Homo sapiens: one gene and its partner. The protein of the gene in region 1 interacts with the protein of each later gene in a pairwise test. Each region holds a gene or a part of one and is shown on either strand. Other genes may lie near its edges.

Evidence for each region.
Region 2: the proteins of MAGEA4 (region 1) and PUDP interact in binary tests that used the Homo sapiens proteins (3 or more experiments, as listed by UniProt).

The regions. Positions count from the first base shown.
Region 1 is NC_000023.11:151,922,679-151,925,760, reverse strand, and holds the end of MAGEA4 (melanoma-associated antigen 4), read right to left. Parts: intron 2,550-3,082; exon of another isoform or gene 2,309-2,549; 5' UTR 2,237-2,308; intron 2,162-2,236; 5' UTR 2,097-2,161; coding exon 1,143-2,096; 3' UTR 591-1,142; downstream 1-590. UniProt on the Homo sapiens protein: Regulates cell proliferation through the inhibition of cell cycle arrest at the G1 phase. Also negatively regulates p53-mediated apoptosis.
Region 2 is NC_000023.11:7,144,900-7,152,089, forward strand, and holds the start of PUDP (pseudouridine-5'-phosphatase), read right to left. Parts: upstream 3,255-7,190; 5' UTR 3,215-3,254; coding exon 3,154-3,214; exon of another isoform or gene 2,813-3,153; intron 2,704-2,812; exon of another isoform or gene 2,391-2,703; intron 1-2,390. UniProt on the Homo sapiens protein: Dephosphorylates pseudouridine 5'-phosphate, a potential intermediate in rRNA degradation. Pseudouridine is then excreted intact in urine.

The DNA of each region.
Region 1 (3,082 bases):
TAATAGTCAGTTCTGGTTCTCCCAGCCAGGTAGAAAAGCACCTGGCCAGTGGCTTCTGGGTCTCCCTTTTGGGGGAGACATACACTTATCTCACAGGAAACCCTTGCAAATAACGGGTGTCCATCACCTAGCTCATGCACTGTGTTCAACAACACTGGGACAAAAGCGCAAGACACCTTCCATTCCTGCCCCAGGTAGAGGCTCCTCTCTGTTCATCCATTGTCACAAAGGAACCGCTCAGAGCACTTTTCCAATCTGGGCTTTTCCCTCTCCCTCTGAGAATCTGGCCCTGGACCCACCAAGCTTCATTAGAATCAGATCCCTCAGAAGAAAATGGAGTTTCCCAAAGCCCAAAAGGCCCCACACAGGGAATTTACACCCGACCACTCTCACCTGGAGCCCCATACCCACACTCGTTACTTTTCCCCTACATCTTAGAGGACATCTTGTCACCTTAATTATATGACCGCGCTCCTAGACTCTTAATACCCTATCGGTAGGTGTGTGTCTGGCTTACCCTAGTATCTCCACTACTAATCCTGGGCCTTCCACAGAGCAGATGCTCAGTGCATAGAGAAGAAATGAGCCAGTTAACAGAAAGAATTATTTATTCAGATTTAATTTCTCTTACATTCACGAAGCCAAGGAAATCCAGGTATGCATATATATTTTTTAAATTTTACAGAATAGACTGAGGCATAAGGCGGGAATTAAGTATCTTTTAATTTATCTCACCTATTTCACGGTGAATTCACACTTCTAAATACTTACTCCACTGCTGTTATTATGTCCCAAATTCACAAAATAGAACGGATTTCCCAATCTGAATAAAAAACAAGACTCTTACTCCTAAACTATATTAACAGCAATATACGTTAACTACGATTCATAAACTTGGATGCTGAAGTTAATTCAACCATCCATTAAAAGGAACATTTCAACAATTGTAAAAGGAAACAGAGATAAATCTCCAAGTCATCCAACAAAATAGAAACCCACTACTAAGAACACTGACTATTTTCTTCAAACAGAGTGAAGAATGGGCCTCATGTTACACGAGGCAAGGGAAGCTGCTGCACAGGGCTGTTAGATGCACTGGCCCAGCCCTGCCCCTTCCCCACAGCCCTGGCTGCAACTCATGCTCAGACTCCCTCTTCCTCCTCTAACAAAGCTGCTTCACGCAGGGATGGGTAGGCAATGCGAACTCTTGCATTGACCCTGACCACATGCTCCAGGACTTTCACATAGCTGGTTTCAGCCAGAGCCCTTGGACCCCACAGGAACTCATAGCGCGCAGGATTACTGCCGGGTACCTGCCGGTACTCCAGGTAGTTTTCCTGCACCCAATCTTGGGTGAGCAGTTTCCTGGGCTCCCCATAGACAGTGTGCTCCCTCCCATCATACACCCCCATCACACCCAGCTCCTCCCAGATTTCCTCCTCAGAGGCGCTGTCGCCCTCCATTGCAATTGTGCCCAGGACGATTATCAGAAGGCCTGTCTTGGGAAAGATCTGATTATTACCCAGCAGGCCATCATAGGAAAGGCCCAGGCAGGTGACAAGGGTGTAGGTGTTGCTGGCGGGGTCCACTTCCTTCACGTCAATGCCAAAGATCATCTTCAGGGACTCGGAGGCTTTGCCGAAGATCACAGGAAAGCAGCGCTTGTAATTTTTGATGACTCTCTCCAGCATTTCTGCCTTTGTGACCAGCTCCTTGGCTCGATACTTGCGGAGCAGAAAATGAGCCAACTCATCCACCTTGTTACTGAGTGCTTCTCGGAACAAGGACTCTGCGTCAGGCGAGGTGCTTGGCCCCTCCTCTTCTTGGCTGCTGGAACCCTCATTGGGTTGCCTCCAGCAAGTGAAGCTGATGGTAGTGGGTAAGGCAGAGGCTCCCTGAGGACTCTGGGGAGGACCTGCTGACTCAGCAGCAGGCACTTCCTCCAGGGTGCCAGGGACCAGAGGAGAGGAGGAGGAGACAGCAGCCTCCTGCTCCTCAGTAGTAGGAGCCTGTGCACCCACCAGGCCCAGGGCCTCTTCTTGGGCCTCAACGCCTTCCTCAGGCTTGCAGTGCTGACTCTTCTGCTCAGAAGACATGATGACTCTGGTCAGGGCAGCAGGCAAGAGTGCAGGCAAAAGCTGGGCAATGGGGACCCACAGGCCTACGGAGAGAGGGAGCATGTGAGAGACCTCAGCTGAGAACCAAATCTTAGAGGCTCTAACAAAGGCTTACTTACAGATCTTCTCCTTGGTGCTCCTCTGTGGCCTCCAGGGAATCCTGTCCTCCGGTTGGCCTGTCTGCTCAGAACCTGAAGGAGGAAGTGAGAGAGCACCTCAGGGTATAGCCGGCCAGCAGAGGTCGATTCTGCAGGATTGATGGTAGGGAGGTGAGGCCAGACTCTTTGGAGTCCTATGTGTCTTGTGGCAGGTGGGGCCCTTGGTGTGCATTCAGGGCAAACATTCACTGCTGGCACAGCCTGTGCATCCTCTGCTCTGTAACCTGAGGACACTGTCTCAGACCAAGGCCTCACTGCCTTGTTCCTGGAGCTCCTAGGAGAGGAATCCATGGGCCCTTAGGGTGCAGACTGTAAGCACAGCCCCGGTCCCTCAGTGCCATCAAGAGGGTAGGCTGGACTCTGTGAGGTCCCCACTCTCATGGAGTGGATGATCCCCACTGTGTTCACTCAGGGCCCTCACATTTCTCCAGGCAGGGCCTGGATCCCACTCTTTTGCTGGCCTGAGAAACTCAGATCAAGAGCTCACATGCCTGAGAGGGAACAGGACCTAAGAAACCCCACATCTGGCCACCTGTGCCTAGGTCTTCCGAAGAACGACAGCAAAAGATGTCGAAATTCATTGGAACCCATGTGTCCTGGATGCGGAGCCTGCTTGGTCCTCACCTCAACTCCTGGCAGAGCCTGGGACCCTCCCTCTACTGACCTGGGTGCAGCCCCCTCAGACCAAGGCCTCCCACTCCGTGACACCAGTGATCCCAGGATAAGAGAGGGACCTCAGCAGAAAGCCAAGCCCATGCTCTCTGGGGTGACAACAGGAGCAGGGCTGATTTCTGTGGGGTCATCATC
Region 2 (7,190 bases), about 140 Mb from region 1:
CATACCACATTTTACATACACCAAAACTCCTAATTCTGAATATTCTTAACACCCACCCTCTGCCTGACCCTCCCAGCATAGCCATTATCAACAGACATCTTGGGTTGCTCCACAAAGACCTAGACCCATGCTGTCCAAGCCAGTAGCCACCCACCAAATGAGGCTACAGAGTGCCTGAAATGAGGCTAGTTCAAACTAAGATGTGTTGTATGTATAAAACACACACAGATTTTGAGGACCTAGTATCAAAATTAATGTCAAACACTTCAAAGATTTTCTTATACTGACTTTGTATTAAATAATATTTTTGATACATTAGGTTACATAACATACATCATCCAAATCAATGTCATCTGTATCTTTTTACTTATTAAAAATTGCTCCCCAAAATTTTTACCTGGCTCAATTCTATGAGACAGAACTGCTCTGGACAACAAACTGTCTTCTCTTTTAAAGAAATTGGGACCATCTTTTGTGTTCCTAATTTCAGTTATTTACAAACAGAATAATCTTCCCTGTCCAGCTGCTGAGATACTGTTTAATAATTGTCATCTTCTTATTTCAAAATCATCCCAGTTTTTAACTAATCCCACTCCCCTACTCTCTTTCTCTGAATGGCATTTGAGAGCCAAAATTATTAATATTACCTAAATCATAACTGACTCTTACCTTGGTCATGAGAAACAGAAACCGAAGTGTATTTTTTTTTTTTTTTAAAGGACAACTAACAGCATCGTGCATGTCAAAAGCATGGGAAAGTGTCCTGGCTTTCTTCCTGGTCAACATTTCCTCTAAAATCTCCATTTACTTCCTCATTCTCCTCTGATTAAACAATCTTCTCCTCTAATGTTAACAATCCTCCATGAAACTATTCGTTTTCAATTTTACTTCCCCAAGTATGCAAGTATTGGGGCTACATAGACAAACAGAACTTCCTAGAAAAATGCATTCAAAATTCCCGAAAAACAGACCTATTGTAAAATAACTCATTATAAATTGATAGTATATTGTTATGCAAACAACAGATACACTGAAGTGAGGTGCTAAAGAATGACAGCAGGCATAATCTGGTAGATTAAATTAAAGTGGCACATCTTGGAAAGCTGTGTTTTATATTTACACATTTGGTGAAAGAATGGGATAAACAAAGGTATATTTCCAAGAAAGTTTTGCAAGGCCTTACCACCTCAAAGAAGAGGTAGGGCAGGAAAGGAGGAAATGGGCAGAAAATGAGGGGGGGGAATAAAAAGAAGCAGGGCTTATTTTTCCAAATAGCACTAATTCTTGGTTATCTGACTAGATCAGAGGATTGGGTAACAATGTGAGGTCAATGCTTGTAATGCCATTTAAGTCACATTCATCACTTCAGGGCATGGCTATGTGTGAATCTAGAATCAGAATTAGGCACCAAGCTCATTTAGAAGTTTAATAAATTTAATTTTAATGAGACATCTTGTTTGGTATTAAAATTCATGAGACTCCCAGAACAGGTTCTCTGGACCTTTATTAGAGGATAAGAAATTTATTTGACAATTTAACTTTTTGACCACCGGAGTAGGAAAATTCATGTCTACAAACTATACCTATGTATCCCACAAGCTTTCTGAAATTGAGTCATTTCAAATTTAGTAGCTGCATACACCGTTGGCTCCAATTAGTGACCTCTACGGGGATTTTTTTTTTCCTTTGGAATTCATCAGTTTACACCTCTGTGTTCATAAAATGAAGAGAATGGTTTCTGCATGCCTTTTTAAAAGGAAACACTGCTAGGGAATTACCCAGCAATATGATGAGCAGAAACAAGGTCACATTCACAATTTAAGATGAGCTCAACATCATTTATATTTAGAACTGGATCAATCCAGAATCGTTTCTCAGCTTGGCTTATTAGCTGTGTGACCTTGGGCAAGTAGCTTTACCTCTCTGAGCTGCAGGGTTTTTTTTTTTTTTTTTTTTTTAATTAGTGACATGCAAATACTTCCTCCTAACTTGCAGGGTTTTGAAATGAAGGAATGATATACGTAACCAAGCAGGTCAGCTGTCTACAAAGAGTATGCAGACATGTTTATAGATATATGAAGCCTCCTGGTGATTATGTGTCATAGTGTTAACTGTGTCAAGGCTTTCGGTAGAGCTCAGCATAGTTCTGTCTTGAGTTAAAAACAGGGTTTTATTCTTTGAATTCTACTTGAATTCCTCTTGGCTGGTGAAGTTCACATGTGCTAAGACTGACTACCTTAGTACACTGCCAAGGGTTTCTTAATGCCTCGGATTGATAGAGCAGCTGTTCTCAAACGTTCACGCGCTTAAAATGCAGATTCTGATTGGGCAGGGGTAGGGTGGGGCCCCAGCTTCTACATTTACAAGTAGCCCACAGGTGATGTCCCCGGTGCTGGTCACCCTAGGCAGCCAGGCCACTTGACGGACCTTCTGTGCCTCTACACTGTTGACGGCGCGGGATAATTCCTTATGGTTGCATAGGGCACTCCTGTGCACTGCGGGAAGTTTAACAGTATCACTGGTCTGGACTCCACTAGATGCCAGTGACCCCATCACTCCTCGCCAGCTGTGACAGCCAAAATGTCTCCTGACATCGCCATTGCCAGATGCCCTCAGGGCTGCAAAACCGCCAGGTAGAGAACCGCTACCATGCAGGATGCTACCATCAAAGTGCGCCCACAGCAGCAACCTTGGAGCAGGCAGGCAAGTATCCTCCAGGCTACTTTGCAGACGGGGAAGCTGAGGCTGGGCACCGCTCAAGGTCGCACGCATGCGTAACCGAAAAGAGAGCGCGGAGGTCCCGCCGCGCCTCGCTCTGAGGAGAGGACGCGGAGCCGCGCGCCCGCCCGGTGGACCCCAGGGACTGCTCCCACGTGCTCCGGCCCCACGCGCGGGCCGCCGACCGGAAGCGGGTGCTGGGGCCGCGTAGACGCCGCGGCCACGCGCGCCCGCCAGCCCGGACATGGGCCCGCGGGCGCTCCTGGCCGCCGCCCGACTTCGGGGCCAGCCGGGGGCAGAGCGCGCGGGAGCCCGAGCGTCCCTGCATGAACACCGCCCCGCCGCGGCCCCCAGGCCGTGACGTACCCCGCGCCGACCGTCCCCACGCCCACACAAGACCGCCCTTACTGGAGGCGGCGGCTGCACACTACCCACCCAGAAGAAGTCCGTCCATGTCAAAGATGAGGTGGGTGACGGGCTGCGGGGGCGCCGCCATGGTGGCGCCTTCTGGGTCTGGGTGGGGGCGAGGAGGAAGTGCGCGCGCACCCGCCCGCCCCGCGCACGCGCACTGAGGACCTTCTCGCGCGCCCGGGGTCGCTCTGCGCACGCGCCTTCCGCGGCCCCTCGCCCGGCTCCGAGCCCGCGCGTCCTGGGCTGCCTAGTGGCGCTCCGCGCACGCGCACCTTGGGCTTTCGCCGCAGCTGTAGCTGCAGACCCGGGATGCGGCGCGGGCCGGCGCTGTATGTTTACCCGCATCAATTCCTCCTCACTTCACACCCGGAATCGGGCCAAGCTACTCAGCCAGCGGCCGCGCAGAGCCGAGGCCCTCGTCTGGGGACAAATTCAGTGCTTGAGTTTGGATCAGGGGTGTGAATGAGGAAGGAGGGACAGTACAAGGGGCTGTAGAGTGGGGAAAGGGGATTGAAGATGCTCAGGGTGGTATCACTTCTAGCCATCAGGTTGCAGACAAATGGCCTTGGTCAGGAGGTCCCTGGGTGGGTTCGCCCGAGCCCCCAGTCCCTGGACCGTGGGTGGGTTTTTCTCAGTTTCGCTTGCCCGCCTCCTTGCGGTCCTGGACCGCGACTTGAACCGGCAGCCGCGCATGCGCAGTGTGCGGAGAGGCTGCACAACCTCCGTGCCTGCATCTCTGAGCATCCCAGGCTGGTGCATTGTCCCAGAGCAAAGCCAAGCTGCTCAAGGAGGATGCTGAAATAATACTAACAGTCAACATGTCTTGCTGGTTGTGCCTTCTTAGGTATCATCTGTCTTTTGGGCTGCTCTGAGTTTTCTTTCTTTTTTAACTTTTCAAATGCCACCTAAACAGCTTTCTTTTTTTTTTTTCCCGTTTGCCATCGTCAAAAAAATACTTTTTTGTCCCTGTTTCTATTTCGTGTTCGTTTATGTGGTATATTCACGTTTAAGGAAAAGGATTGGACCTTTTGAGAAGCGGAAATAGGAGAATTTCAAGACTTTAAAAACGTGAGGGTGTGCTGGGCGCAGTGGCCCACACCTGTAATCCCAGTACTTAGGGAGGCAGAAGTGGGAGTTGGGGGAATAGTTTGAGCCCAGAAGTTTAAGAACTGCCTGGGCAATATAGCGAGACCCTGTTCTCCACAAAAGGGGAAAAAGACAAAAAAAAAAAGGTGTAAACATGAGAGTGTATTTCTAGTTTAGTGCAGACATAGTGGACAGGGGCATGCCTGGATTCAGCAAGAATTATTATCTATGATAGACAAAGTGCACCTGTGTCTGTTTCCTCCTGGGTAAAATGGAGGTGATAAAGGAGGTGAGGCAGGCCAAGCCCTTAGTACCAGTGCATAATATATAGTCAATAAAATTATGTGTTCTTAGAGGTGGTACTATAAGAGAGCTTCCCCCATTTAATGCAATCGTGATTTCCCTTTGAGGACACGGGATTTCAGAGAAGGCAATTTATGAGCAAATTAGGTAGGGACTTGCGCCTCAAATACAGTCGTTCGTGGTTTCTGTATTAGTTTACTACAGCTGCCATAGTAATATACCACAGACTAAGTAACCTAAACAGCAGATGTGTATTGTGTCACAGATCTGGAGGCCAGAAGTCCTAGATCAAGATGTCAGCAGTCTTAATTCCTTCTGAGGGCTGTGAGGAAAGGACCTATTCCAGGTCTTTCTCCTCAGCTTGAACCTGCTTTCCTTTCCCTGTATCTTGTCCTATCGTCTTCCCTCTGTGTGTGTCTCTGTGTCCAAATTTTCTCCTTTTATAAGAACACGATTCTTATTGGACTAAGGACCACCCTAATAACTACATTTTAATTTGATTACCTCTGACAAAATCCTGTTTCCAAATAAGGTCACATTCTGAGGTAGCGGGGATGAGGACTCCAACATATATTTTTGGGAACACAATTCCATAATAGATGCATTGCACACACATAGCTGTGGTACCTACAGTAAGTATGACAGTATTTCCCACCTGGAGTCTGTAGAATTCTCCCTCCCAGTTTCCTTCCATTCTCTGGAAACAAATGGATGCACACATGTCAGAGTTACTGTTATTTTTTTGGTATTGTAACCACCTCACATTTCTGTTTAGTCATTAAATTAAAAAAGAGTATTTTTCTTTTTTCTTTCTTCTTTTATGAGACAGAGTCTCACTCTGTCACCCAGGCTGGAGCACGGTGGCGCAATCTCTGCTCACTGCAGCCTCAGCCTCCTGGGTTCAAGTGATTCTCCTGCCTCAGCCTCCCAAGTAGCTGGGATTACAGGCGCCAGCCACCACACCCAGCTAATTTTTGTATTTTTTAGTAGAGATGGGGTTTTACCATGTTGGCCAGGCTGGTCTTGAACTCCTGACCTAGTGATCTGCCCACCTCGGCTTCCCAAAGTGCTGGAATTACAGACGTGAGCCACCGCCCCCGGCCAAAAAAGAGTATTTTTCAAAGGAAAAAAGGCCCCAATGCCATTTTGACGAAATGGCAAAGCCTCACAGCGATTGTGGAAGAGACAGATTGGGAAATCGTAGGTACTTCAGCTCTCCACAGATGTGAAAACATGCTTCACATTATGTTTTTATCAGTCTTATTTTCTACACTTTTCAGTAACATCACTTCTATGCATAAGATGGAAGACTCCTCTTTGCTTAAAAAAAAAAAAACAAACTGAATGGTGAATGCTTCTCTGTCACAAGCTAGATTGGAAAAGAATGAAATTTTGTTCTAGCAATGTGGTTTGTACACATATAACAAGTTAGTTTTTAGCTTTTCATAATTCTCCAACAGCCAAAGATGGGCAGTTTCTATGCTGATGGGGATGCATTTCCTTCCATGAATTACAGTTTACTTTTGTACAGTTGTGTTCTCCCCATGGGACAATAACTTACTTTTCCTGACAATTTTAAGACACAATAGAAATGATCCAGTAAACTACAGTACGATGGCATCAAAAGCACATTATCAATGGGACAAATAAACAGATGCTCTTCTTTCACACAACATGTAAACTTAAACATGCCATTTATTGTGTGTATATATATGCCATCCTGTAGGGAGTCTTAGCTTATTTCAACTTCCTTAGTTTGTTGTCCTGGTTCCTGTGTCTCTGTGCTTTTGTTATCTGTTGTATTTGGTTTCCAGTCTGCTGTATCTGTTTTCTGTGAGCCCACTTTGCCCTGTTATTCTCTTTACTTTTCTAGGGGTACAAATCTTGCCCAGCGTAGATGGAGGGTAACAGGTTGGACTAGGGACCATCTTTCTCAGTGGCTGTACACAGTCTACTTTTCTTGATGATGCTGAGAGACCAGAAAGCTCTGACTTCATCTGATGGGGCCTGAATTTGAGCTCCTCATTGCAGACTTACCTGCCTTCTTCCCCTAGATAGCTGGCTTTGCAACGCTGACTTAGGAAGTCTCTTGCTTCAGAGGCACTGAATATTCTCACCCCTTCCCGCTGCTGCTTTCCTCCAAGCCCAGTGAGCTCTGGAAGGGAGCCTGACATAGATGGCTGAATTCGCCACTCCTGGCTTTGTACTCTCGGACATATCTGGTATTTTTGTGTGGGGAGGGTCATTGTTTTTGAACCCCTTCACCATCAGAGTGCAAACTGGCTCTGAGCGAGAGGTCCAGTTTGCTTCTCTGCAGTGTTGGATAACAGATGTGGTCGGAACTGGCAGTGCCAGCATCCCCTGGGAGCTCACTAGAAATGCAGAATCCCAGCTGCCACCCCCAGACTGACCAACTCAGCATCTGCCTTTCAACCAGGGCATCCAATGGTCTAGACCATTGACCCCCTCCTGGGGTATACCAGCTACTTCATTGTGGGGAGGGGGCTTAGGATTATTATTATTATCGTTATTTTATTTATTCGTTTATTTTTTGAGATGGAGTCTCACTCTTTCGCCCAGGCTGGAGTACAGTGGCACGATCTTGGCTCACTGCAAGCTCCGCCTCTCGGGTTCACGCCGTTCTCCTGCCTCAGCCTCCCAAGTAGCTGGGA